Linked DNA regions of Homo sapiens. The protein of the gene in region 2 interacts with the protein of the main gene of each other region in a biochemical or structural test. Each region holds a gene or a part of one and is shown on either strand. Other genes may lie near its edges. The genes, in order: SPTBN2, UNC13B, DOC2A and RIMS1.

Region 1 (7,022 bases), on a different chromosome or scaffold from region 2:
CTGGGAACTCTCCCCGGCATTTCCCCCATGGCCTCCTCTAAGCCTCCCCCACCTCCTCATGCTTGGGTCAGACCTGGGGGCTGAGGGCCTGAATGTCATGCTCGTAGGCACAGTGTCGGCGCTGCAGGGCCTCGGCAGCGTTGAGGTCGCGGCCAGTCCCGTCCGGAAGCTGCTGCTGCTTGTGCTGCACCCGCGCCAGGGCTTGGCGTGCCCCGTGCAGGAAGCGCTGCAGCTCGTACGCCGCGGCCAGCACCTGACCCCGTGTGTCCAGCAGCTCAAGCAGGTCAGCCCAGGCCTCGTTGAGACTGTCCTTCCACTCGGCCACGGTGGCCCGTGCAGCATGGCCCCCAGCAATGAGCCCATTGGCCAGCGCATTGGCGCTATCTACGCGCTCCTGACCGATGGTGCTTGTGTCCCGGGAGAACTCTCGGAATTTGTCTCGGAGCATCTGGTAGAGGAAGCAGATGGACAGACCATGCCGTGATGTTAGGGGATGTGGTCCCTGCCTGATGGAGCGAGTCCTCCACTCCAAACTCAGAACCCACCTCTCCCCGCTGCATGGGGGCCGGGACAGGTTTCTTCCCTGTGGTTAAGGAGTAGGTGCAGCTGCTTCCCACTGACCCTGTATTTGACAGACTCCCTCCACCCCCAGCAAAGGCGTTTCAAGGTGCTTGGGACCCTTAGGCTTCAGACAAGGATACCCTAACTATGGTCCATATTTCTGTACGACTGAGGGTCCAAGCCCCCAAACTGTCGGGGGGGTGGATCATACTCCGTTTTGTTGAATTCTGTTGAAAAGTGTGAGTGATAATTTCCTGTTTGCCCTTGTCTCAGCTCAGCTTCATGTCCCCTTTCTGTACAATTCTTCAAATTGTGTGTGTGTGTATGTATTTAGAGATGATAGGGTCTTGCTCTGGAGTGCACTAGCGCAATCACTGCAGTGTCGACCTCCCAGGCTCAAGAGATCCTCCCACCTCAGCCTCCTAAGTAGTTGGGCCTACAGGCATGCACGGCTGTGCCTGGCTAATAAAAAAAAATTTTTTTTGTAGAGATGGGGGGTCTCACTATGTTGCCCAGGCTGGTCTTGAACTCCTGGACTCAAGCAATCCTCCCATCTCAGCCTCCCAAGGTGCTAGGATTACAGGTGTGAGCCTATGCCCGGCCTCTTCAAATCATATACCTCAAAACCAGGAGGACAGTGCCTGCTCAGCCTGGTCTTGCCCCTTAGCCCCTCAGTGCTCTGCCTGGGACTAGGTCCTAGTCTCCCTGTGGGTCCTCCACTCTTCCCACGGTTGATCTGAGCTGGGTGCCCTCCCTACACTCACAGTCACATGCTCGTAGTCCTGGCCCAGCTCGTGGGAGGCCGCCACCACCTCGCGCTCCTGGATCCACTGTTCCAGGTCATCCAGCTCGCGGCGGAGCTGGCACAGCCGGAGGTGCTCCTGCAGGCGCTCCCGCCGCTCTCCAGCCAGCTCCTTCAGGCCGGCATACAGCTTGTCCACCTGGGCTTGGCGGATGGATATCCGAGTGCTGCAAGAAGAGTGAGGGAGGCACTGTGGGACTTAGGGGTGTAGCTCTGACCTCCGGTCTGTTCTGTGGAGCCCTGTCCCTCTGAGTCTCCCAACAGCTCGCCCACCCTGTGTTCCAGCTTTCTAGAAGGCTCCGTGCACACAGCACTGAAGGCTCCACATTCCCTGCACCTTCCTGTTCCTGCAGCCGGCTCCACCCCCAGGCTGGGCCGGGCTGCCGCTGCACCCACCTCTCTGGGTGCTCGTGGTCAATCATGTCCTGGCTGCTGGCCGCCAGCTGGTGGATGGTCTGCGCGTAGTCGGCCAGGGCTTGCTCCAGCACCTGGTGCTTCTTCACCTCTGCCTGGGCACTCAGCTCATCCTGGGGGAAGGGACAGTGGCATCCAGCATCAGGTCAGGGGAGGGCAGAACTGGTCACATACACTGGGCTCTGTCCTGGCCCTCACCTTGGCCTTCTCCTGGCCCATCATGTGTAATTCCTGCTCGCCCATCCAGGCCTCCGCCTCGGCGGCATCGCGGTAGAACTGCTGGGCTCGCAGGGCATCCTCCAGTCGCTTCCCTCGAAGTTCCAGCTCGTGGCCCAGGCGTTTCCACATTTCCTGCAGCTCAGCCAGCTCTGGACCTGCTGCTGCTGCACCTAGAGCACGCTGCCGCTCCCTCAGGTCCGCGATCCGGGGCTCATGGCCCTGAATCTCTTTCTGCAGGGTCTGCCCATGGCCACAGAAGAGAAAATGCTGAAAGTCCTGCCCCAGCCCCACGTGCTCCCGGAGACCACCCTTCACCCCTGTGCCTCTCTCCTTCCTGGGTCCTCTGCTCCCTCTCCTAGCCTGGGGGTGCGATGGTAACACCCGTCAGCCGCCCAGCCCCCACTATCTCCTACTGAGAGGACCCACCCTCCCAAGGTGAGGAAAGACAGCCACTGAAGTCCAGGGTTACACTCAGCATCGAGGGGGGCCTGGTCTTAAGAAAAAACACGTCCAAGTCTGGGCAGGCTCCTGGGAACTTCTCTTTTGCCTTCAGCCTCTGCCTCACCTGGTTTTTCTTCATGAGAAGCTGGACGCTGGGCAGGTCCTTGCCATGCTCCATGGAGCTGGCCATGGGCAGCCGCTCTGTCACCCACAACTGGAAGAGGAAGAGGGGGTCAGTGGAGGCCCAGAGGGCAAGGCAAGCAGCAGGGACTGATTAGTGGGAGTGGGGACACCTGGGGCTACCGCCCTGTGTGTGGGGAACAGTCATCTCTGGTTCTGGGAGGCATCTCCAAGTCTCCCTATAGGGGAGATGGTCAATGCCAAAGAGAAGAGGGAATAGAGCCCTGCTGGCATCTCCCTGGCATCCAGGAGGGAGGCTGGAGAACCACATGGCTGGGGGCAGCTTGCCGTCCTTGGCCCCAGTGACTCACAATCTCATCTTCCACATCGCGGTGGAACTGGTGCTGCTCGCGAGAAGCCTGCAGGCGCCGGCAGCGTTCCCGCATGGGCTGGCACAAGGCCCTGAACTTCTCCTCCACGGCCCTCGAGGTTCTCTCCACCTCCCCTGCACCCTGGTCCTCCTGGGCCAGTGCTTTGGCCTGGGCCTGGATTGCCTCCACCTCCTTCTCTCTCACAGCCATCTCCCATTCCAGCATCTGCAAACCGCCAGGAGGAAGGACATGTTAGCTCTGCATTTCCGCCTTCATGCCCAGCAGAGACACCAACCAGTCTCTATCCAGCCCACTGTGGCTGCTCATCACTGCAGCTCACCCAGGGAGAGCATCCCCTCATGGGCTGGATCAGTGGATCTCGAACTTTATATGCACAAGAATCCAAGGGCAGGGGTTGAAAAAATCCCTATTGGGTACTGTGCTCACTACATGGGTGATGGGTTCAATTACACCCCAAACTTCAGCATCACACAATATAACTTATAACAAACCTGCACCCACACCCGCGAATCTAAAAGATTGAAATTAAAAAATCCAGGGTAGTGTGATAACTGTGCCCATTATCAATTCATTGTCTCTCCATCCCCAATCCATCGTGGCCCTGCTTTGAGACACTGGAACTGGCCCCTGGAAACATTCCTCCTTTGCCAGCAGGCACAATCTAGGCCTTGTCAGCAGAGGGCGCTGGAGGGACACCACAATGCCTAGCAGATGTGGGGCATTCCACGGTTCCAAGGTGCTTTTCTTCCTCCTACAGCAAAACTGTCCACAGTGCGCAAGAGATCCGGTGGCTCTTACTCTCTGGCAAGTTTTGCTGCACTCTAGTGGCCACTTCCTGCTGGCCAGCCTTGGCTTGCTGGCTTCAGACATGCTCTGGCCTGTGATACCCCAGCAAATTTCCAGGCCATTCAGTGGGCCTCCGCCCTCTCCAAGGAGGTCTGAGACTCAGCCATCTTGCTCCTTCCTGGGGGACTCCTCAACCCCAGAGGTGTCAGCTGCTCCCTACACTTCCCATTCTGCATTCTTCAGAGCAGGGACCAGCAAGTCCAGCCCACTGCCTAGCCTTATAAAGTTTTTATTGGACCACAGCTGCACCCCTTTTTAAAAAATTTTTTGAGACAAGTCTCGCTCTGCCACCCAGGCTGCAGTGCAGTGGCACGATCACAGCCCACTGCAGCCTCGACTCTCCAGGCTCAAACAATCTTCTCACCTCAGCCTCCTGAGTAGCTGGGACTACAGGCACACACCACCACCACGCCCAGCTAATTTTTGTAGTTTTTGTAGAGATGGGGTTTTGCCATGTTGCCCAGGCTAGTCTCAAAACTCCTGGACTCAAGTGATCCGGCCACCTCGGCCTCCCAAAGTGTTGGGATTACATGTGTGAGCCACCACACCTGGCCATACCCCTTATTTTACATATAATCCGCAGCTGCTTTTCCTTACAAGGGCAGAGTTGAAGGGCTGTGACATAGACCTTACGACCCATGAAGCCCCAAAAATTTACTATCTGGTGCTTTACTGAAAAAAGTTTTCTGACCCCTGCTATAGAGTTCTCTTTACCACCTTTTACTAATTTATACTTCTGTTTTTTTTTTTGAGACAGAGGCTTGCCCAGGCTGGAGTGCGATGGCATGATCACGGCTCACTGCAACCTCTGTCTCCTGGGTTCAAGCTATCCTCCTCCCTCAGCCCTCAGCCTCCCAAGTAGCTGGGATAACAGGCGTGCGCCACCACGCCTGGCTAATTTTTGTATTTTTAGTAGAGACGGGGTTTCACCATGTTGGCCAGGCTGGTCTTGAACTCCTGACCTCAAGCGACCTGCCTGCCTTGGCCTCCCAAAGTGCTGAGATTACAGGCATGAGCCACTGTGCCTGGCCTAATTAATATTTCTTTTTACTGAAGTTCTCATCGTCAAATTATTAGGGGGTCTGTCTCCTAACTCTAACCCTGACTGCGACATATCCCTAGAGATTCTGATACTGGCTGCCCAAAGAAATGACTCTGGGAAATGCTAGTGAAGGTGTTATCTGCCAGGCCTCAGCTGGCCTCCCAAATCTTGAAAGCTGCAGCCCCTTTCTTCTGCTGTTCACCATCCCCATCAAAGGCCCACAGCACACCTGCTGCTTCTTGAGCAGGATGTTGACGCTGGTGAGGTCCTTGCCGTAGTCATCCGAGTGCAGCTGGGCCTGCAGGCTCTCCAGCCAGCTCTCCAGGGCACAGCAGCTCTGGGCAAACAGCTCAGCTCGGTTGGCATCAAAGAGGCTGCGGGCCTTGGCTTGGGTGGTGGTCTCCAGCTCGTCCCAGCGCCTGTGCAGGTCTCTCAGCTTCTCCGACACCAGGGCTTTCAGCTCTGGCTTCTCAAGGGTGAGCTCTCGCCCTTCCTGGAAGGCAGGACAGAAAATGTCAAAGTGCCCAAATTAGCCTGAACTTTAGAGGCTGAGAGCAGACCAGGGGCCTTACGGGCAGTAGAGACCTGAAGTGTGGGCAATAATTCCAAGTCCTTGTGTGTTCTTATCGACACACTCTTCACGGAGGTTTAAAATCCCTTCTAAACTGCTGTTCCCTCACTGCTGATGAACCCCACTCCTCCTTCAAGACCCAGCTCAAACAGCATTTCAACGAGGAAGCCCTTGCACTCTCTTTAGTTTGGGTTCCTTGGTGCCTGTGGTTTCTGGCACCACACTGCACATTGACTTGAGTTATTTGCCATCATTTTGTATTTCTCAACTCATTACTCTTCACTTCAGTGATAGCAAGTTGAGTCCCACCTGGTTTCCCCACTTCCAGCTTTTCTGCTTGAGGATTTCTGTGTCTGGGGTGGTGAGGGAAGTGTGCTCTCTTGAACTGTGTGGAAGGCAAATTGGAAGAGCCACAGAGTTAACAAGCCCAGAAGCAGCCCTCAACCAGTGACAGACAGGGAGCTGATGGATAAACACACAGCATCCTTGTGCCGTGGCTGTGAGAGTGCTGTGTTCTGTGTTCCATCTACACCCCCGCAGAATGCCCCATGAGGGTTGGGCTCCTGATGCCCATGGGGGTAACTGGCATGACTTCTGTCCCTTCTCATGGCTCCACCCCCCTACTGATCATTCCCGGGGACACCTCCCTAGAATCACTGTTTCAGGGTCTGCTTCTAGGGGAACACAAACCCAGACACTGCCTTCAGGCCATTTTGCAGGTGGCTGTGGCTGTCAGGATGGAGAGCATCAAAGGCTAGCACTGCCTGGGTAGCTTCACAACCCTGAGCACAATCAACACTTGGAAGCACACGCATGTGGTGGTCAGGACTTCCCGGGGCTTCTCTCCCACCTCTTCTTCCATGGGGCCCTGCACACATTCTGTGCTGCTGCTGGACTCACTCACCCCCTTGCTCCCAAACAGGCACTGCCTACCACTGGTTTTCTGTTTGGTTTTCTCTACCTGGAAACATCTTTTCCTCCATATCTCCACTTGTCCAAATTCTACTCATCCTCCATGGACTGCCCTGGATGTTGCTGCTTCTAGAATTTCCATATCTCCTCTCTCCTTATTCCCCAGGCTTCAACGGGGCCACTCTCACAGCACTCATCAGATTCTGCTCTGGATTCGATTTAGCTACCTGCATATATGCCTCATATCCTGGCTACAGTGTTGTTCCTTCAGGGTGGAGCCTACCATGGGATCCCTTTCGGACCCCACGCAGGGCCTAATACAATGCTTTGGATATAGTAGCACCAAGTAAATATTTGCTGAACGAATGGAAACACTTGAAAGCACACTGGTCTCCTTTTGTCCCAACCATCATGCCCTTGAGAAAAGGAAAGTGTCTTTTCGTAGACCCTGCAGTGCCTCGCAGACTGTTGAGCACGTACCATGTTCTGTAGGGATACTTGCTGAGCAGATATAAAGCTTTATCTGTCCTTGACTCTTGAGGAACAGCTGGGTGGGAGACCAAGAACCAGGGACGGCAAGACTCGAAAATAAGGATTGGCAGACTACATACAGCCCACGGGGTAATCTGGCCCACTGCCTGTTTTTACAAATAAAGTTTTATTGGGAAACAGCCATGTTCATTCATTCACTTATTCTCTGAG
Region 2 (8,013 bases):
TCTTAGAAGGAAATACCACAGCTGAACACAAAATTCCAGATCTGATCTGACCAGTGCAATTACTTCCTTTGTCTGGGTCACCATAAGCACCACAATACAAGACCAGTTGCAGGCAGCATATGATTCATTTCCAAACTAGTGGCACTGTTCAGACCACAAGTGCTCCGAGGATTTAAAGGAAAAAGAGATCACTGTGGACTGGGGACCTGAAGAAGTTTTCAACAACAAAAAAAGTAGACTGTTAGCTGGGAAAGTAAGAATACATTTTAGATAGGCAGAAAATATGGAACGAGTATTTCAGGGGGCACAAGTGCAGAACAGAGCAGAGGCAGGAATAAACAAAGTTAGTGCTAGAGCAAAGTCTGCATAAGGATAGGCAAGAATAGAAGGCCACAAGTCTGGAGTCAGAGTATTGAGAGCCTTAAACCTGCAGGCAATAAGGCATGATTAAAGGGCAAGACAAAATAACTGACTTCTTGAATGAAATGTTTAGGAATGATTAATTCAATACCAGTTTGCCAATTTCTACATCAAGTTAACTACTTTTTGAACTCTGCATAGGAAGTTTCTAATTGATTCTACTCCAAGATGAATTGAAATTGAGTTGTAATAAATATCACTATATAGACTGCTTTCAGAATACAACATTCCTACTGCCAAAATACAACGCAAGGAATGTCATTTTAGAAAGATGTATTTTGTGCTGGGTGCAGTGGATTATGCCTCTAATCCCAGCACTTTGGAAGGCCAAGGCAGATGGATCACTTGAGGTCAGAAGTTCAAGACCAGCCTAGCCAACACAGTGAAACTCTGTCTCTACAAAAAATACAAAAATTAGCCGGGCCTGGTGGTTCACTCCTGTAATTCCAGCTGCTCGGGAGGCTGAGGCATGAGAATCACTTGAACCCAGGAGGTGGAGGTTGCAGTGAGCCAAGATCGCAGCACTGCACTCCAGCCTGGGTGACAGAATGAGACTCTGTCTCAAAAAAAGAAAAAGAAATAAAAATAAAGATGTATTTCAATTCATTTCTGTAAGTTTTCCCAAAATGAATACTTTGCCATTCAATATGAATATCTGCATATAAGGTACCTGTTTGTTTCAGTATTTAAAATCTTCTAGATCTCTATTCAAAAAGACAATGGCCTGCTGATCTCGTTTCTCCAGATTCAAAAAAGAAGAAACTTCACTAAAGTAACATTAAAAAGGAAAGAAGTTAGCTAAATAGCAGAATTTCTAGACAATGAAACCTGCCTGCTATTAAAACAAATGAAAACACCAGTAGTTATATAAATTCAGTTAAATAGGAATTTCTGATTCACGAGTGCTCCTGCCTAAAGAGTCTTTCATAAGGACCAGCTCTGTAATACAGTGTGGCCGTAGAGAATTAAACTGTCCAAGAGACACAGCAAAGTCCAACCTCTCCCAAATCCTGCTACTCAGCAGCAGGGATCTAAAGGAATAAATAGATTCCCAGCTGCTGAGAGAAAATGTCTTACTAAAAGCAAAGCAAAATTCTCATTAATGAAAAATCAACCATGAAAGAAGAAAAACTGTATATCTCATAATCCCGGGAAATGGCCAAATCCATTTTGGTTAATGCAGATTCAACAAAATAGTGGAAGAGAACAGAGCAAAGCAGTTTCATCTGCCAGTAGCTGGGGGAAACATCGTTATTGGAGAAATCACAAACAACAACAATGCTTCTAATCTGTAGAGCCAAAAGAAATATGAACTCTCCAGTAAAAGATATCAGGTAAAGGCTCTAGTTGATAAATGCTCTCTCATTCATAATCAAGACACATCAGATATGATAGGCTGTAACCTGAATTTCCCGAGATCAAATTCAATGGCTAATCCAAACCCTGTGTTTTCCTGATCAGATAATCTCTCTGAAGTCACAGTACTTGCATTCATTCAAAACCAGCATTAAGCTTCTACTACGTCAGACACCAGGAATACAAAAACTAATAAGAAACAGTCTCTACCCACATAGAACTTAGTTCGCGTACCATGCCTCATCTTAAACCCCAAAGCTCTTGCTTTAAGATATCTTCTTAGATGGGTCAAGTGTCCTCAGGGGAAAAGCAATAATGGCCCTTCACCTTGAGTTACTGTGAGGCAAGCTAAAATAAAAATAAAAATAAATCATACCTCTTATCCTCAAAAGCAGTCACCACATCCTCCCAAGTGGAACAGAAGAATAATCTTAGCCTATACTACCGGTTAGTGTTCAGGGAAGTGGCAGGGGACAAGACAAGCAATAGAAGGGATGTGACAGCTGTACCACTAACGCATTCAAAGTGTGATAAAAAGAACCTGCTACTAAGCATACTGTAGCGTTACGGTGCGAGGAGGAGGAAAAGAATGAGAGGCTGCCCACCATTCACAGGCACCAACCATCCGCGGTCTTCTAACTCGTCCACTCTCACTAGAGAACCCCAGTCACTGTTTAATAGGATCTGAGCCTGCAGTCCAACAACATTGTCACATGGCTACCAGAATGGAGAGCTAATCGTCCCTTGCAGGAGCTTGGGGGAAAACAAGAAAGTGGAAAGAACTCAAGTGATTGTTAAGTGATTGCCAAAATAATAGACCCCCAAAGCACGGACGGGATGTAAAGTTTGGGTGAGACGGTCACCGGACGTCCACTGGAAGGGTGCGGGGACCTCTACGCCGACACCCCGCCTCCCCGCCTCAGTCCGCGCACTCACCGCGCACGCAGAGCAGTGACATGGCCGAGGATCGGGCAAGCCTCTGCCGCGCCCCAGCCGCGCCGGACCGCTCCCTCTTTCCTCTCAGCAGGTGCCGCGACTGCTCTCGTTACCGGCCCCACGGGTCTGGCAGCTCCTCATGGTCCCGGTCGCAGGTAGCGTCCCGCCGCTGCCTCGGACCCGCCCCAAATCTCACCGTCTGAGCGAACTCCGGGTAGCGGTGAGTACCGGCCGGCAGGCTGGGGACTGGGCGCGGCACAGCGACGCCATCGCTGGGAGGTAGGAGCTGCCGGGACTCCCTCCCGTCATTCCACCCGGGATCCGCGCGAGCGCCTGGGCGGAGCCAACCCGTGGTGCCCCGCCCCCCAGCCAATTAACTCACGCCCAGTCCACCGACCCCGCCCCCCCCCGCGAGCACGTAGGAGGCGGGGTCCCCTTCCTCCTTTCTTTCTTGCGATCCTGAAGGAAGCTCCGCCCACTAATCAGGCTTACTGCAGGGAGCAAGGGGTTGACCCTCAGTTGTGTGACGCGAGAATGGAAGCCCTCTGTTCCTCCTGCATGAGCGGGGCTTCCACCCAAGAACAGATTCTTTTCATTGAAGGATTTCCACTGGACTTTCTTAGAGTCTAGCGGTCATAGCTGACAGCCTGTAATTTTAAGTTAACGAAGTCGCACCGCACAGCAAAGTTAAGTTTTGTTTAGCAACTAGGGCAAAAGACAAAACTGAGTGGGCATAAAGTATGTCTGGAGACCTCAGTTCTTATCTAGACCGTTTTTTATGCTCATCATTGTATCTCCAATGTCTGGAATAGTGCCTAGTGTATGGTAATCAGTCCGTAAATATTTACTGAATGAAGGATGGTAACCACGGAGGGATTGTGAGTGGAGATACCTCTGATCTTTGACAAATCTCCTATCCATGCTTGGTACCAACATGAGCTAACTCCATGGCTCAAACCAACAGGACAATTTGCTAAGGTCTAGGAGCACCCCCTCCAGAGAATCCCTGATCTCCCAAAATTTGGTCGAGATCTAAAGTTCATTTTGTTGTACAACTCCCTCTATTATTATTATTATTATTATTATTATTATTATTATTTTGGAGTTTTACTTGCTTCCAACAAGGAAGGCAAGTTTTCCTGCTTCCATGACGAGGGAAGGCAGGTAACTCTTTTATGGAGTTTGAGCTCACTTCCAACAGGGAAGATGAGGGGTTTTTTTCCTACTTCTGGGATGGTAGACAGCCGTTTTCAGCCTGAGACGCACCCCTAGGTAAGTAGCTGAATAGGGATTTTTGTCTTGGCTAAAGTTAACAACCAGCTGGTCTTAATTTCTGCTTACCATTAGAGTGCTCAGTGATCATATTGTTGGGTTTTTTTTTATTTTGTTTGTCTTTTTCCCATTGACCAACTCTACTTCACTTGGTCAAATCCAAGTGAGAATTCCAAATTATGGGTAACAAGGCCTATCTAATTTGAGTAAAATTCCTCACAGCTGCAAAAGAAAAAACAAACAGAAAACAAAAAACCATGTATTTGGTTTCTGTGTTTGCTTCCTGGTCTTAAAAATTAAACTGTTCTTAGGCCGGGCGCGGTGGCTCACACCTGTAATCCTAGCACTTTGGGAGGCCGAGGCGGGCGGATCACGAGGTCAGGAGTTCAAGGCCAGCCTGGCCAACATAGTGAAACCCTGTCTCTACTGAAAATACAAAAAAAATTAGCCGGGCATGGTGGCGGGTGCCTGTAATCCCAGCTACTCGGGAGGCTGAGGCAGGAGAATTGCTTGAACCAGGAGGCGCAGGTTGCAGTGAGTGGAGATCGAGCCATTGCACTCCAGCCTGAGCTACAGTGTGAGACTCTGTCTCAAATTAAAAAAAAAAAAAAAAAAAATTCAATTGTTCTTTTGTTTACTTTTCTTCCACCCTATACCTCCTTCACCCTTTGCCATCTGCATTACCAAAAAATCGAGAGAAGGCTTCTAATGACTTGAACCTCTTTAAAGAATTTAGGCCGGGCGCCATGGTTCACGCCTGTAATCCCAGCACTTTGGGAGGCCGAGGTGGGCGGATCACGAGGTCAGGAGTTCGAGACTCAGCCTCGCCAACATGATGAAACCCTGTCTCGACTAAAGATACAAAAAAAGTTAGCCAGGCATGGTGGCACGTGCCTGTAATCCCAGCTACTCAGGAGGCAGAGGCAGGAGAATCACTTGAACCTGGGAGGCGGAGGTTGCAGTGAGCTGAGATCGTGCCATTGCACTCCAGCCTGGGTGACAGGGCAAGACTCTATCTCAAAAAAAAAAAAAGAATTTAGAACAAAGGTGCCACTCACCCCCTTTTGGGGTGTTCTCTTGGCTTTGTGGGATTTCAAGAGTCATGGGCAGATTCTTCTTAGGTCTAAAGCTCTGTTTTCCTGTATTGCATGACCTGACCTTTTTGGCTTTGGGTGCCAGAGATGACCTTGCACTGTGAGAGGATTTGACCTTGGTGTGTATATTGTTGGAAAAGAGCTACAAAGTTACGGGTGGCTGAGCACAGTTTATAGGAAGTGGTTTTGGCTGTTTCCTTTTTTTTTTTTTTTTTTTTTTTTAATTTTCTCTCCTAGGAAGTCGTTGTTTAAGAATCCTAATTCTAGGCCAGGTGCGGTGGTTCACACCTGTAATCCCAGCACTTTGGGAGGCTGAGGCGGGCGGACCACTTGACCCCACAAGTTCAAGATTAGCCGGGCCTGGTGGTGTGCACCTGTAATCCCAGCTATTCGAAGGCTGAGGTAGGGCAATTGCTTGAACCAGGGAGGTGGAAGTTGCACTGTGCCGAGATCGTGCCACTGCACTCAGCCTGGGCGACAGAGCGAGACTCCATCTCAAAAAAAAAAAAAAATCCTAATTCTAGTTTGGAGATCCGTTCTGAAGGATCCTTTATATTGCTTTTTCTCCCAACATTAATCTCAATTCCGTTTGTCTGTGTGCATTTGCATGAGGAACTGAACTGTTGCTTTCATAGGTATATCAGAGACTGAGTTTTCTCAGCTCCAAAAAGAAAGGGCATTTGCCCCTCCCAACTGAAAGGTGCCCCTGAGTGACTGGGGACCTTGTGGGAGTGTCTGAAAGGTTGACCCCGAACGATGTGCAGTGGTCCTGCAGGGAAATCCCCAACAAAAATTAATTTAGGCCAGGTGCGGTCACACACACATAATCCTAGCATTTCAGGAGGCCGAGGCAGGCAGATCACTTGAGGTCATGAGTTCAAGACCAAGCCTGACAAACATAGCAAAACCGCATCTCTACTAATAATACAAAAATTAGCCAGGTGTAGTGGTGCGTGCCTGTAACCCCAGTTGCTTAGGAGACTGAGACGTAAGAATTGCCCGAACCCAGAAAGTGGAGGTTGCAGTGAACCAAGATTATGCCACTGCACTCCAGCCGGGGCAACAGAGTAAGACCTTGTCTCAAAAAAATATATATATATATATTTAATTTAAAAACTGGCTCATCCAGGAAACACATTGAAGGGCTGATCACCCAGTGTTGTGAGCCCTCTCAGAAGTCATAAACCTCTGGAGAGAGAAACTGAGACATGTAAGAGGGTGGAAACCATTCAGTGGTGGCACATTGTGGAGTCCTGCCCACAAGCAGCACGTGATGATCCACCACACAGAAACTCTAAGCCACAGCTCAGTTTCTCCTTTTAAGAAAAAAAGAAGTGGAAAACAAATAATCTAAGAATGAGAAGAAAACAAGGAGAATGACCCTCTTTTGAGCACTCTGTAGGTTTTATGGCACCTCTACTGCCAAAGTTTATGTAAAATGGAAAAAATATGGTCTTTGTGCACATTTACATTAAGAAAAAAGAGCCCTAAGGTCGACCTACTAATTATAGAGTTCCTAAGACCTCTTTTCTCTATTCTTTTCTGCCTGCTCTAAATCTGCCATTATTTTCTGTTAAGATAAAAACCACAGTTTAGATCCAACAAGTTCTTTTTGCAAACCGGTAAATTTGAATTTATCTCATAGCTAAAAGTTCTGAAGTAAAAGCTATAGGATGTGTGTGTGTGTGTATTTAAAAGGCTTTTATAATTTCTATAATTTTATGTTTAATTGGCCATTAAATCTGTTTCAATTTCCGTCTAGCACACCAGACTTTTTCTCTCCACACTTTATAATGTAAATTTTGCTGTTTGGAGTTCACCTGAGTTGTTTTCTTTAATATGCAAATTTAAGGCTATTTAGCTGACAACTGCCTAGGGTTGTGAAACAGGTTATCAAGAATCTGAAAGTAGCGGGGAGGGAGGAGGGGAAAAAAAGAATCTGAAAGCCTAAGGAAAAAAAACGTTTTTTATGAATCTATAAGAGGTACCTCTAGGCCAGGTGCAGTGGTTCACGCCTGTAATCCCAACACTCTGGGAGGCCGAGGTGGGCAGATCACCTAAGGTCAAGAGTTCGAGACCAGCCTGGACAACATGGTGAAACCTGTCTCTACTAAAAATACAAAAATAGCCAGGCGTGGTGGCACATGCCTGTAGTCCCAGCTACTCGGGAGGCCGAAGCAGAAGTATCACTTGAACCCAGCGGGTAGAAGTTGCAGTGAGCTGAGATCATGCCATTGCACTCCAGCCTGGGTGACAAGAGAAAAACTCTGTCTCAAAAAAAAAAAAAAAAAGATGTACCTCTATCAGCATGCCTAATGTGTCTATGTATTTATGTGTTGTGTACACAATGTTTCACTACTGAAAATATATAAAAGAGCTCTAATTAATTGGCGTAAGAAAATAAAAGTGCTTAAATCAAACACTTATTCAGGAAAAAATAAAATAGTCAAATGCTTTTTCAAGTTTACATAACTTAAGTAAAATCTTTACTAATGTTGATGAAAAAAATCAAACTCTGTAAAATATTTGAAGAGATTTATTCTAAGCCAAATATGAGTAACCATGGCCCATGACACAGCCCTCAGGAGGTCTTGAGAACATGAGCCCCAGGTAGTTGGGGTGCAGCTTGGTTTTATAAATTTTTGGGAGGCATGAGACATCAATCAAATACATTTAAGAAATACATTGGTTTGGTCCAGAAAGACGGAACAACTCAAAGGGGGGCTTCCAGACTATAGGTAAATTTAAACATTTTCTGGTTGAAAATTGGTTGAGTTTGTCTAAAGACCAGGGATCATAGAAAGGAAATATTTAGGTTAAGAAAAAACACTGTGGAGACCAAGGTTCTTTTGAAGTCTTATAGTGGCTGCCCTTAGAGAAAATAGATGACAAATATTTCCAATTCAGATCTTCAAAGGGTGCTAGACTTTTAGTT
Region 3 (6,832 bases), on a different chromosome or scaffold from region 2:
GCCTCTGGCCTCCCCTCCATTCCACCCGAATAGCTGAAACCAAGGTGGCCTCTCTGCTGCACAGCCCTGACCATCAGGGAAGGTCCCAGCTGCAAATCCAAGCACAAAGGCAGAGGTCTCTCCAGAGCCTGGGTTTCGCTGCCCGCCACCTGACTTGAGGGAGTACTCTCCCTACATCTCCATCTCCTAGGATGACGGAGCAAGTTCCCTGTCCCTGAAGACTTCACTCCTTAAGAGATTTTAGGGGAACTCAAGGCACGGAAGGGGCAGACCAAAGCTGCAGAGGTCTGGCTTAAGCCAAGGGCTCTGAGAAGGGGTCTCGGCAACCCAGGAACGTTTTTGGGAGGGGGCAGAGCTTGGACTGAACCTCAGATGAGCGGAATTTAGGCTGGCAGGAAGGAGCTTTCCAGATAGAAAACAACAGGAAAAGTTCAGGAGTTGTGGAACTGGCCAGTTGGAAGAAGGGAGTCCTCTGTTTGAGGGGCAGAAGATACTTTTGTTTTGTTTTTGAGATGGAGTCTCCATCACCCAGGCTGGAGTGCAGTGGTGCGATCTCGGCTCACTGCAACCTCTGCCTCCCGGGTTCAAGTGATCCTCCTGCCTCAGCCTCTCGAGTAGCTGGGATTTACAGGTACATGCCACCACGCCCGGCTAATTTTTGTATTTTTAGTAGAGACGGGGGTTTCACCAAGTTGGCCAGGCTGGTCTTGAACTCCTGACCTCAAGTGATCCGCCCACCTCGGCCTCCCAAAGTGCTGGGATTACAGGTGTGAGCCACCACACCTGGCAGGCAGGAGATATTGAGGGGCAGGAATGGCAGGGAAGAATTTTGGCCTGCTGCCAAAGGGGCTAGGGAGCCGCTGATGGTTCTTGAGCATCAGAGAGGTACGGGCTTAATGGGACATAGATCAACCAACCAGCGGTTACAATGTCAGCTGTCCCCGAGCTGCTGCTGGGTGGTGGGGAGGGGGGCCCTCACCTGAGCACCTTGTGCGTGATGTCGTCATCTGTGATCCCGCTGTAAGTCAGGTCCTCATTCCACACGGGATTCAGTGTGTTCCTCTGAGTCTTCGTTTTTAGCTTATTGGCCTGGGATGTGGGGATGAAAGGTTCTCAATACCTGTCCTCCAGCCCCACAGGCTGGAGTCATGGGCTGGGCCGGGCGGGGCGAGAGGAGGCTGTTACCTTACAGGCTCCAGGCAGCAAGTGCAGCTTGACGTAGGGGTCGGCGAGGCCATTGAAATCCATGGGCTTGAGGCCCTGGAGAGGAGGGCAGGGGAGAGGGCTAGAGGCTCCCGGCACCTCTCTCCATCCCTCTTGTAGAGCTGGACCCTGGAGGAGCCCAGAAGGAGGGGGCAAGGGCAGGACGAAGGAGCAGGCCTGGGAAGGGAAGGAGGAATGGGCCCCCTCTGGGGGCTGCACGCAAACCGGGCCCGGGCTTGGGTGGCAGGGAGTGCCCACCTTGGCCCTGAGGATGCTACAGTGCAGAGTGCAGGAGGCCCGGTCGTAGAGAAGGTCAAACTCCAGCGTGCCTAGGGCGGCTGGAGAGAGAGGAAAGGCAGCATGGGTCGGTATGGAGACAGGTGTGTGCGAGAGGCCAGCAGGTGGGCACTGGCTCTGTGTGTCTCTCTCTCTTGCCAGCCCGCGAGTGTGAGTGCAAGAGGCTGAGTGGGCCCATGCGTGTGTGCGTCTGGGTCCCTGGCTCGGCCGCAACTGGGGCTGTGTGGGTGGTGGAGTGTCTCAGCAGAAATACTGAATATTGAGCCTTGCTGAAGCTGTAATCTCCACGCTGACTGCAGCTGTGGTGGCCGTCCCTGCCACCCCCCCACTGCCCTCCTCCCCTACCTACATGCACAGCCAGCAGGGCCCATCCCCCTCTCCCCCCACCACGGCAAGCCTGGAGACCCCCACCAGCACATGGGGCCTCCAAGCCCCCAGACTCACTGGCATCATCCGAGTCATAGCTGTCCACCTCCGCACCATCCTCAGGCGTGGTGGCCCCAAGGAGGGCTGCAGGGGGGGCCAGAGCCAGGGGGACCAGATGGGCGGGGGCCTCCCCGCCGCCCCCGCCGCCCCCTTCAGGTCCTGGTCCCCGGGGGAAGTAGTCAGAGATCTGGCGGATGGGCCGGATGGGCCCGGGGCACACGTTGATGGCCATGTGCTCCTGGATGTTGATGGTCATGCGATCGCCCCTGCGGCCCCTCATGCAGCACCCCTGGCTAGGAGAGGGCGTGTGAGCCAGTGAGCCCATCATACCTAGCCATCCTGGCTGAGGGCCAGGCGACGGCCTCCTCGGTCTGTGGGGCCCTCACTGGCCTCCCTTCCTAGGTGTCGAGGGAGAGGGTGGTGTGTGCCAGCCGGTGGCAGGTGGGAGGCCTGGGCCCTGCAGACCCCAAGCTGACTCCACAGGGGCTGGGCTGCCAACCCACTCCTTGCAGAAGTCGAGGTTGCACCACCCCGTCCTCACCCACCCACTTCTAGGTTGTCCCTGTATCATCTTGCCAGCTCCTTCCTCTCCTCCGGGGCTCCCCTCTGCTCCTGAGCCTGCCTGTCCCCCAAGGGGCCCTGCAGGGCCCCGCCTCTGTTTCTCGGAGGCTCTGTCCTCCTCTGCACCAGGCGCTGGTCTAGTCAGGGTGTCACCCACCCCTCTAGGCTCCAACTGCCCACTGTCCCCTCATTCAGCCCCAGGACCTGTCTGCCTGCCTGGTTCCCCCGCTCGCTCACCACAGCCCACGGTGGAGACCCCAGCCTCAGATGCCACCTCTGGCTCCTCAGGGGAGCCAGAAATTGCAGCCGCAGGAGAGCCGAACACCCCCGTAGCGCACACAGGCTGGCACGCTTCCCCGCACCCTCACGCCCCCGGCCTGCCCAGCCCCCTGCACCTGCCTCTGCCTCCAACAGGTGCCCAGGCACTGGGGGGACGGCGGGCGCAGGCTGGGCGGCGGCGGCCGGCGAGGAGAGCGCGGAGTCGAGCTGTGCGAGCCGAGAGGGAGGGAGCGCCGAGAAAGTGCGGGGAGGAGGGGGTGAGCGAGGTGGAGGCGAGGATGCAGCCGGCGCGGCGGCGGGGGACGGGGAGGGGCGCTGGGGCTGGGGAGGGGGCGGGATCTCGGACTCCCACCCGGGGCCCGCTCGGGAGCGCACGCGAGCGCGCACACACACGTGTGCTCGCGCGCGCACACTCACGCAGGGGCACGCGGACCGGCACACACTCGTGTGCACACATCCAACCGGGCACCCCCGCGCGCACACGCCCGTGCCCACGTGTGCACGCTCACACCCTTGCACACACCCAGGCGCGCGCTGGCACACTTACCCGGAGAACTTCGCACACACACGCACTCGCAAACACGCGGGCTCCCTGCGCCACCAGGAAGCAGCCGCCAGAATCGCCGGGTGTTCCCCAACTACTCCTGGGAGACCTGGCCCCCCGCCCCCGCCCGCGCGCGCGGCCACGGCGCCTCCCTCCCTCCCGGGTCCCCAAGGCCGGACCACCGGCCTCGTTGTCATGGCGACGCCGGCTCATCTCCCCCCACCCCCGCGCGTCTTCACGCCCCTCCCCCGCAGGGAGCTGGGGCCTCCCTCCTCCCTTCCCCACGTCCGTAGGGACCCACAGGTTGACAGGAGCAGGGGGTCGCCTGCTGTCACCGGCCGGGGATCTCGGGGTCTCCCGAGCCAGGCTGGGGAGCCTCACGATCTGAGGGAGGAGGCAGAGGTCTGATGCTGCGGCTTCCCCCACGCCCCCTCCCTTTGGCCGTTCAGGCCTCTCTCCTTGTGGCCCAACCCAACTCCCAGGGGCCCATGTCCCCTTACCAGGGATGGTATCTCCTTTGGGAACCACCCTCCCCCCTGCCATCCCCAGTTCTGCCCCGCAGGTGGGAAGGGGCGTCGGGGCTTGGCTCTGAAGGTCTCAGAGCCCTGCGGTAGTTCCCCATGGGCTGCCATTTCTCACCCAAACCTTGCCACCCCCAAGCCGCCCCCCTGCCCGGCCCTGCGCCTGCCACGGAGTGTCAGTCCACCCCTGGCCTTCGGTCTTCACTCACCTGTGCCCCAAACTTACCATCCCGAAGACACGAAGGGGCTTATCACCCTCGCTGCCCACCACTGACTCACCCAACCGTTTCCTGCAGTTCCTGGGACACACCTAGACGGCTCAGGCCTAGGGATCTTGGCTCACATGCGCTCCTCTACCTGGGAACCGCGCTTCCTTAGGAAGTCACCGTGGGTCCCCTCTTCCTAGGAGCCTTCCTGGGGCATCCCGCACTGCCCCTCAGCTCCAGCGCCGTCAGGACTCGGCTCAGCACCGCTTCGCCAGTGCCTCCCCCACCAGCAGGGAGTTCCACTGGAGCGGCTGATTCATCTGGGAGTCCCTAATGTCCCAAACTGGGCCTGGCACGAAGTCGGCATCTCTAAGTGCTGTTATTTAAAACAGCAATCTGGTTGCACGACAACTGAACATACCTAACACCACCTAATCTTACCCTTAAAAATGGTGAAGATGGTACATTTCGATATGCGTATTTCACGGCAATTTTTTTTTTTTTAAATAAGAGAAATGGGGCCGAGAGTGGTGGCGGGTGCCTGTAATCCTAGCTACTCCAGGGACTGCGGCGAGAGGATCGCTTGAGTGAAGCCAGCCTGGGCAACACAGTGAGACACAGTCTCTTAAAAAAAAAAAAAAAAAAAAGTAAGAGAAATGTAAAGTCAACAACACTGAGGGGGCGGGGCGCAGTGGCTCACGCCTGTAATCCCAGCGCTTTGGGAGGCCGAGGTGGGTGGATCACCTGAGGTCAGGAGTTTGAGACTAGCCTGGCCAACATGGTGAAACCCCATCTCTGCTAAAAATGCCGGGCGTGGTGGTATGTGTCTTGGGAGGCTGAGGCAGGAGGATCGCTTGAACCCGGGAGGCGGAGGTTGCAGTGAGCTGAGATCGTGCCACTGCACTCCAGCCTGGGCTGTAAGAGCAAAACTCAGTCTCAAAACAAACAAACAAACAAACAAACAAAAAACCCTGAGATATCACTTATTACCCATAAAATGGGCAAAGCCAAAGTGTCTGGGCTGGGGGGAAGCTGAGACGGACTGATCCCTTGAGCTCAGAAGTTCAAGACCAGCCTGGGCAACATGGTGAGGCCCTGTCTCTACAAAAAAAAAAAAAAAAAAAAAAAAAAAATCCAGGCATAGTGGTGTGTGCCTGTGGTCCCAGCTACTCAAGAGGCTGAGGTGGGAGGATCTCTCTTCTTTTTTTTTCTTTTCTTTTTTTTTTTTTTGAGATGGAGTCTCGCTCTGTCGCCCAGGCTGGAGTGCAGTGGCGTGATCTCGGCTCACTGCAAGCTCCACCTCCCAGGTTCATGCCATTCTCCTGCCTCAGCCTCCCGGGTAGCTGGGACTACAGGTGCCCGCCTCCACGCCTGACTAATTTTTTTGTATTTTTAATAGAGATGGGGTTTCACCTTCTTAGCCAAGATGGTCTCGATCTCCTGACCTCGTGATGGTGGGAGGATCTCTTGAGCCCAGAAGGTCAAGGCTGCAGTAAGCTATAATCACTCCACTGCACTCCAGCCTGGGTAACAGAGTGAGACCCTGTCTCAAAAAAAAAAAAAAAAAAAAAAAATCCTTAGACCCAGAAATTCCACTTTTAGGATTTTATCTTACAGATATGCCAACCCATAAGCCAAATAATAGAAGTTCAAATTCTTTTTTTCTTTTTTTTTTTTTGAGACAGACTTTCACTCTTGTTGCCCAGGCTGGAGTGCAATGGTGCGATCTTGGCTCACCGCAACCTCTGCCTCCTGGGTTCAAGCAATTCTCCTGCCTCAGCCTCCCAAGTAGCTGGGATTACAGGGGCGCACGCCCCACACTTGGCTAAGTTTTTGTATTTTTAGTAGAGACGGTGTTTCACCATCTTAGCCCCGCTGGTCTTGAACTCCTGACCTCATGATCCGCCTGCTTCGGTCTCCCAAAGTGCTGGGATTACAGCTGTGAGCCACCGCGCCTGGCCATGAAGTTCAAAATTCTTAAATGTAGCACGTTCCAAAAGACTGGAAACAACTGAGATACCCAGAAGCAGGGGACCAGTTAAATCAGTCATGATGTAATTCCATGCAGTGAAATAGGGTGCAGCCACAAGAGGCTGTTTTGCTCTTGTTTAGAATCATCTTTTTTTTTTTTTTTAAATATACAAGGTCTCACTACTTTGCCCAAGCTGGTCTCAAATTCCTGGACTCAAGCAATCCTCCCGCTTCGGCCTCCCAAAGTCCTGGGATTACAGGCGTGCGCCACTGTGCCTGGCCCTAGAATCATTTCACAGTTTCATTTTAACTTAGAAAAGCCAAGTGCAGGCCAGGCGCCATGGCTCACGCCTGTAATCCCAGCATTTTGGGAGGCCAAGGCGGGTGGATCACGAGGTCAGGAGATCGAGACCATCTTGTCTAACACGGTGAAACCCCATCTCTACTAAAAATACAAAAAATTAGCTGGGCGTGGAGGCGGGCAACTGTAGTCCCAGCTGCTTGGGAGGCTGAGGCAGGAGAATGGCATGAACCCAGGAGGTAGAGCTTGCAGTGAGCCGAGATTGCGCCACTGCACTCCAGCCTGGGCGACAGAACGAGACTCCATCTCAAAGAAAAAAAAAGCAAAGTGCAGGCTGGGCATGGTGGCTTACACCTGTAATCCCCGCAATTTGGGAGGCCGAGGCGGGAGGATCACGAGGTCAGGAGTTCAAGATCAGCCTAGCCAACATGCTGAAACGCTGTCTCTATTAAAATTACAAAAATTAGCTGGGCATGTTGGCGGGCACCTGTAATCTTGGGAGGCTGAGGCAGGAGAATTGCTT
Region 4 (7,022 bases), on a different chromosome or scaffold from region 2:
CTGAAAATAGAGACTGGGAGGTGATATTTTGATAAAAATAAATATTTTAACATTGCCATGGTTAATTTTACTTTCAGTTTGGAGGATGGATTGACTACACTTATAGTTAATTTAAAAATACAAATTTAAAAATGTTGTGGTGTACAAGGAAATAAGACATAGAAAAAGTTTGGAATTATACAGTATTTTACTAAATGTTAAAAACAAAAAAATTAACAAAGCATCACAGACTTAAATGAATACAAAGTATTTTAAGAATAGAATTTAAAATGCCTATGCTGTTTTGACATAGTCACTAATTGTAACCTTTTGAATAAACTGGAAATGAAATTAAATTGTAAAATTCAACTTATTTAATAATAATAAATTGTGTTTCTTTTAATTGATCTGGTAGCAGTTCTGCACATACTCAAAATTTGGAACATGCCCAAATCTGGCAGTTAGTTCTCATTGACCCATTTTTTGTAACGTTTAAAAATGTGAAGCAATCAAAATAAGATTGTGATAATAATTTCTAGAGAATATTCAAATGTAAAATGAAGAGTATCCTTTACCCTTCATCAGTATTATTGTGCTCCTTTCTGCTTCTTTATTTAGCTTTATTCAATTTTAGAAACTTTGTAATTGTAAATTTGTGTTTTCTGGTTTTTTAAAAACTGCATATTTATCCTAAGTATACCTTGATATTTCTGTAGAAAAGAACCTACTTGATTTTATTTTATTTCTTATTATTTATTTTGAGATGGAGTCTCGCTCTATCGTCCAGGCTGGAGAACAGTGGCGGGATCTCAGCTCACTGAAACCTCTGCCTTCCGGGTTCAAGTGATTCTTCTGCCTCAGCCTCCCAAGTAGCTGGGATTATAGGCATGCACCACCATGCCCGGCTAAGTTTTGTATTTTTAGTAGAGACGGGATTTCACCATGTTGGCCTGACTGATCTCGAACTCCTGACCTCAGAAGATCTGCTCCCCTCAGCCTCCCAAAGTGCTGGGATTACAGGTGTCAGCCACCACACCTGGCTGAAAAGAACCTACTTTAAATGATGATAATAAGTTGCTTACTATTAGTCTGAGAAATACAAATTTAACGTCTTCTTATTTGATGTAAAATAGTCAAAATTTCATACCAGTCTTGTTGAATTACATGATTTCAAACTTTCTTATTATGGTCTGTCAGCTAAAGAGACAAAAAACAAACCAACCAACCAAAACCTTCCCACCACACACGTCCTGTCCCCACTCAGGGTTCTGGGCAGAAGAGACTCAGTGTCACTGACTGTTCATGAAGGTCCTGGCCCTGGAGTACTGCACCTTTTAATGTTACCCTTAATATGTCCATGTTCAAACAATCAGGACTTCTGAGGGACCTACTCAGTAATAGATTTTGTAAAATATACCCTTATTTGGCTAGCACTTAAATTGAAGTTACTTTCCATAAAATCCTTATTTTGATATAGGTTTATGCAATGAATTGTTCATCTTGTTTGACATCTTAGTAGATGAGAATTCCGTAATATTGGTTATAATACTTTGTGTAGACATTATACCTAACTGCTTTTTTGAACCTAGTACACTTCATTTTATGACTGGGAAAGTCTAAATAAATCAATTAACCTTCATGAATTTTAAATTTTTTATAGCAAGTATTTCTCTTCAGTCTTAATTTTTCCTATATTATAATTCATTTGAGTTTTCTTTCCTGGAAAGCAGTTCTTAATTCACCTGCAGTATTTTCCTTTTAAAAAAGTGTATTACTTTTTTCCTGTCTTTTTCTTATTCTTATTTTAGCTTCATCTTATTCTATGGCTACAGTTACAGTTTTTCCCCATTTATCTGAATATTTTCAGTAGTTCATTTTCTTCATTTGACCTACTAAACAATGCTTCTTTTACTATTTTCTATTACTTATCAGTTAATGTTTCTACGATTTATTCATCCTGATGCAATATTTTTGAGTACATGTTGATTGAGTCAGTATTTGTGAAAAGGAAGCCTAGAGTTTGGTAATTAGTTTTTCCTGTGGAGGTAGTTTCTGAAGTAGAAACAAACACAAAACACCTGAAGTGCTTTTGGAGGCATGTAACTGAGGCAGCGATGTAAAGTCACAGCACAAAGAAACAGAGGTACTGAGGATATTTGAAAAGACAGCTCATGGAGCTGTTAGCACCTATCTTTGCCCTGTGACAGCTAGTCATTGCTGCTATTATTATTTTTTATTATGATAATCGTCCTCATTATTACATTCATTTTAAAGGTCATCAAATGGAGAACAGACATATAGTTTATTTTAAGTGGTGCTACATCTTATAATTTATCAGTGGATATGTTGCTAAATGATGGTTCCCCAATAGCTCTCCTTGGGGAACATTACATTGGAGTGGTCACATATGAATAAACTCAGAGTCACATTTATTGCTTTAGTAAATATGTGCATGGAAAATTATATTTTATAGCATAAATAAGCTTAAGGTTAGTTTATCACTAAGAAACTAGAGAAAATATACACATTGACCTTTTTTGTGTGCTTACTTTGTATGTTTCTTCTATGTGAATATTTTTAATATTGCCTTTAATTGTGGGTGATTTTTGAAAAGACAGACTTTTTAAAAATACTTGCAAGTACTGAGGTTTATGTATTTACGTACTGATTCTGTAGTTCCTGGTAACATTTTTCTTTTTTTTTCCTGGTAACATTTTTCTAATCAGTTAACTACCTTGCTTAGAACATTTTTGCTAACACTCCAGAGTCAATTATAAAAAATATGACAGATATATGGTAAAAGGAAATTCAGAATAATCAAATCAGAAATGCTGAGAAAAAACCTCTACTCTGGCTGCTGAGAGGCTCTCTAGTCTCAGACAAGTCCCTGTCTAGGCATTCATATATTTGACTGTGACTTGTGGGAGGACCATTTTCACAAGAAATTTGCAAGGATAAATATGAAAATGAATACTGTTCTTTTTTTCTTAAATATATTTTAAGATACTGAAAAATTATTTCCAAGAGGGCATAAAAATTTATATTGTTCTTTCTTCTTCAAATAGGTTATGTGGGTATGCAATTTATGTCGAAAGCAACAAGAAATCTTAACCAAATCTGGGGCATGGTTCTTTGGAAGTGGCCCTCAGCAGACAAGTCAGGATGGAACCCTGAGTGATACAGCTACAGGTGCTGGCTCTGAGGTACCAAGAGAAAAGAAAGCACGACTCCAAGAGCGATCGCGGTCTCAGACACCCCTAAGCACAGCAGCTGCCTCCTCCCAGGATGCTGCTCCTCCCAGCGCACCACCAGACAGGAGCAAAGGGGCTGAGCCCTCGCAGCAAGCCTTGGGGCCTGAACAGAAGCAGGCTTCATCCAGGTCTAGAAGTGAACCTCCTAGAGAGAGGTAATAGTTCTTTCACCCTGTAAGCAAAAGGCAAGATTTTGCTAGGAGAGCAAAGCCGTTTTCAAGAATTTAACTTCTATTACGAGGAATATGTGGAAGTAGTACTTCTCAGGCCCCACATGGAAAAACAAAAGGCCTGAGGGGCGTTGTCTATCTCTAGAATGTATTCCTTAGGAGACCTTTGTTGAAAGCATTTCTTTCATATCATGCACAGATGTAAACATGAACTAAGTCACCCAGCTGAGCTACCAACTTCCAATGATGAACTCAGAAAAGCTCTTAGATCATGTTTCACTTATAAACCTAGCCCTTTAATTAAAAGTGTGCTCTGAGAGGATGTGATGGGGGAATCTGACCTATCAGAAAGTATGTGGACACATCAGAGAAGCCTTCTTTAAGGGTATTTCTTTTATGCTGAGCTCTAAAGAGTGACTTTGAAATTAACCAGGAGAAGGGAAGGATGGGTGCTCCAGGTATCTGCACAGGCACATGGCCTGAAGGAACAAGCCCAACGTGAGGGCCTCCTAAAGGATAGCTGCTGGCTACAGTGCAAGTAGCAGAGGCAATGTGGAGGAGAAAAGGCTGGTGAGGTGGTGAAGGGACAGGTTACATTTTATAGCTTTTATTGTAGGTGAAAGGGAAGCCACTGAATATTTAAACAGGGACGAATATGATCAGATTATTTACTTTGATTGATTCATTCAAAAATGTATTCATGGGCAAACATGAAGCTATGCACTGGGAAAAAGTGTTGACAAAGAAGACAGAGCCCTTATCTTCATGAGGCTCATGATTTTGGGGCCAGGACTTTTGTTAGCACCTAGACTGGGCTTATTGTTTTTGTATGTGTAACCATTACTTGGAGAAAGGAGGCTCCAAGGAAAGCTTTTGAACCCCTTTTCAAGCAAAGCCCATACAGTAAAAGATCAAGGACTTCAAAGTTAAATAGGTCTGGATTCTAGTCCTGGCTCTGCCACAATAGGCAGTAAAAACTCACTTGCAGGGTTGTGGCAGGTATTAAAAGAGAACATGTGTTCCCAAGCTGGCACATAGTAGGCTTTCAGTGAATGTAGCTATTATTCAAGCCAGTAGTCATTGTGTATTTACTACAGATAAACACTGTGCCAGGAACCAGAGGGCATAAAGATGATTAGAACATACATGGTCCCTTTTCTGACAAATCCTAGGGAAGAGACCACACACTATTCTAGGGAAGACAGACACCTAGGTAATTAACAAGGATGCTAATTTGATCAAAGCTAGGCAATATGTATAGTATTTTGAGAGCCCTAGGAAAGAGGAAGTGACTTCTCAATTAAGCTTTGTAAGATACTCAGGAGTTGTAGGGGAGCTACACAGCGTATAAGAGGGCAGTACAAGAGAATGAGTGTTACTAAGCTATTTGGAGAAAGGATAGAAAGGACACCAGAGATATCTCAGGGAACGTAGAATTAATAGCATTTGGTGACAAATTGTTGTGGGAGAAGAAGAGACAAAAATACTGAAGCTGCAGTTTGGAACTGGTTGGAAGATGATATCTTTAAATAAGATAGAGAATTTGGAGCTGTAAAGTTTCTAAAGAGAAAAGAGTTCTGTTTTTGACATATAGTGAAAAACTATAAAAATTTCAAGAACAAGGGCTGAATAGATACTTTTTGTTCTGACTTTTTAGTTAAAATTTGAAGAAGATTGATAGGGACAAATAACTTTACTAATGATATAAATTCACAGGAAAGCAATGAGGAATTGGGAAGTACAGAAGCAGGAAGAGAGGTGGCCAGTGTAAAGAGCTGGGCAACTTCAGGGAGAAGCAAGATTGAAAGAGACACTGTTTATTTGTTTTAAATTACTGAAGAATTCTTGACCGTATTTTGTACTGTCAAGGAGTTAGAAACAGAAAATTAAAGGTAGAGATGAGAAAAAGTATAATTAGTAGAGCAAAGAATCAGAGACACTGGAGAACTCCTTCCATTTGCATGACACTCTACCCTTTCATAAAACATCTTCACAGATGGTGTCTCTAATCCTCACATGAACCTTGCAAGGTAAGTATTTTTCAGCATTTCAAGAAAAGTAAATTGATTCAATGTAAACTTCTAACAAGAGCAACTATGCTTCAATGAGCTGCTAAATGTAGTACAAGCATGACACTCTTATGAAAACTATATTTGGTAATAATTAATATGTGTTCCCATTAGATCCCTTACCTTGTAAAATTCCAACACCCTTACAGTTCCACCTTCAGATCCAAATCCCTATAACTAATTATTGTAACTGAAATGATTTAAGACTGGAATGAGAAGAAAACATGTTTTTTATGTCTAGTCTTTATAAATTGCTCTCCTTGACGTTCCTTTGTATATCATAGAAAGAAGACCCCAGGGCTTTCCGAGCAGAATGGCAAAGGAGCCCTGAAGAGCGAGCGGAAACGCGTGCCAAAGACCTCAGCGCAGCCCGTGGAGGGGGCCGTCGAAGAACGGGAGCGCAAAGAAAGGCGGGAAAGCCGAAGGCTTGAGAAAGGGCGATCACAGGATTACCCAGACACGCCGGAAAAACGGGATGAGGGCAAAGCGGCGGATGAGGAAAAGCAAAGAAAAGAGGAGGATTATCAGACCAGGTACCGCAGCGACCCGAACCTAGCTCGGTACCCGGTGAAACCGCCGCCTGAGGAGCAGCAGATGCGCATGCACGCCCGGGTGTCCCGCGCCAGGCACGAGCGGCGCCACAGCGACGTGGCGCTCCCGCGCACCGAGGCGGGCGCGGCGCTGCCGGAGGGCAAGGCCGGCAAACGCGCGCCGGCGGCAGCCAGGGCCTCGCCGCCGGACTCGCCGCGGGCTTACTCGGCTGAGAGAACTGCGGAGACCAGGGCGCCGGGCGCCAAGCAGCTAACGAACCACAGCCCGCCGGCGCCCAGACATGGGCCGGTTCCCGCAGAAGCCCCGGAGCTCAAAGCCCAGGAGCCCCTCAGGAAGCAGAGCCGCCTGGACCCCAGCTCGGCGGTCCTCATGCGGAAGGCCAAGCGCGAGAAGGTGGAGACCATGCTGCGGAACGACTCTTTGAGCTCAGACCAGTCCGAGTCGGTGCGGCCGTCCCCGCCCAAGCCGCACCGGTCCAAGAGAGGCGGCAAGAAGCGGCAGATGTCGGTGAGCAGCTCTGAGGAGGAGGGCGTGTCGACGCCCGAGTACACCAGCTGCGAGGACGTGGAGCTGGAGAGCGAGAGCGTCAGCGAGAAAGGTAAGGGGGCGGCGCCGGCCGTGCGGGGACTTCAGCCAAGTGAAGAGGCGTGGGCAGAGGTGCAGGTGCTAGGCTAGTTGCTGGGTTCAGCATTGAGGCTGGGAATGCTCACAGATAAGATAGCGTTACCGCCAGTGGAAGGTCTTATTTTTATTAATTTAATTTTATTGATTGATTTGTGGGATTTTAAAACACAACAAGCTCCAAACTTAGGCTACAAAAGTTCTTGGTGATTTTGCATTCTGTCATTCTGGTAAATTTGGTATGCAGTCTAATATTTTTAAGATATTATTTTAGAGTGGATTTATTATTCTGTGAAAAACAATTTGTTTGCTAGAAAATGAAAATTATGCCTTATAAAGGAAGTAGACATTAAAAAAAAACCACATCAGTTACGTAATAT

Evidence for each region.
Region 1: the proteins of UNC13B (region 2) and SPTBN2 form a complex in vitro, tested with the Homo sapiens proteins (one study listed by BioGRID).
Region 3: the proteins of UNC13B (region 2) and DOC2A form a complex in vitro, tested with the Homo sapiens proteins (2 studies listed by BioGRID).
Region 4: the proteins of UNC13B (region 2) and RIMS1 form a complex in vitro, tested with the Homo sapiens proteins (one study listed by BioGRID).

What each region holds. Positions count from the first base shown.
Region 1 is NC_000011.10:66,691,211-66,698,232, forward strand, and holds part of SPTBN2 (spectrin beta chain, non-erythrocytic 2), read right to left. Parts: intron 6,959-7,022; coding exon of another isoform or gene 6,635-6,958; exon of another isoform or gene 5,794-6,634; coding exon of another isoform or gene 5,688-5,793; exon of another isoform or gene 5,372-5,687; intron 5,331-5,371; coding exon 5,067-5,330; intron 3,154-5,066; coding exon 2,929-3,153; intron 2,652-2,928; coding exon 2,562-2,651; intron 2,237-2,561; coding exon 1,976-2,236; intron 1,891-1,975; coding exon 1,760-1,890; intron 1,531-1,759; coding exon 1,326-1,530; intron 449-1,325; coding exon 74-448; intron 1-73. UniProt on the Homo sapiens protein: Probably plays an important role in neuronal membrane skeleton.
Region 2 is NC_000009.12:35,157,005-35,165,017, reverse strand, and holds the start of UNC13B (protein unc-13 homolog B), read right to left. Parts: upstream 3,010-8,013; 5' UTR 2,735-3,009; coding exon 2,713-2,734; intron 1-2,712. UniProt on the Homo sapiens protein: Plays a role in vesicle maturation during exocytosis as a target of the diacylglycerol second messenger pathway.
Region 3 is NC_000016.10:30,008,017-30,014,848, forward strand, and holds the start of DOC2A (double C2-like domain-containing protein alpha), read right to left. Parts: upstream 3,012-6,832; 5' UTR 2,887-3,011; intron 2,220-2,886; 5' UTR 2,207-2,219; coding exon 1,945-2,206; intron 1,542-1,944; coding exon 1,462-1,541; intron 1,261-1,461; coding exon 1,186-1,260; intron 1,090-1,185; coding exon 980-1,089; intron 1-979. UniProt on the Homo sapiens protein: Calcium sensor which most probably regulates fusion of vesicles with membranes. Binds calcium and phospholipids. May be involved in calcium dependent neurotransmitter release through the interaction with UNC13A.
Region 4 is NC_000006.12:72,176,531-72,183,552, forward strand, and holds part of RIMS1 (regulating synaptic membrane exocytosis protein 1), read left to right. Parts: intron 1-3,044; coding exon 3,045-3,385; intron 3,386-5,753; coding exon 5,754-6,619; intron 6,620-7,022. UniProt on the Homo sapiens protein: Rab effector involved in exocytosis. May act as scaffold protein that regulates neurotransmitter release at the active zone.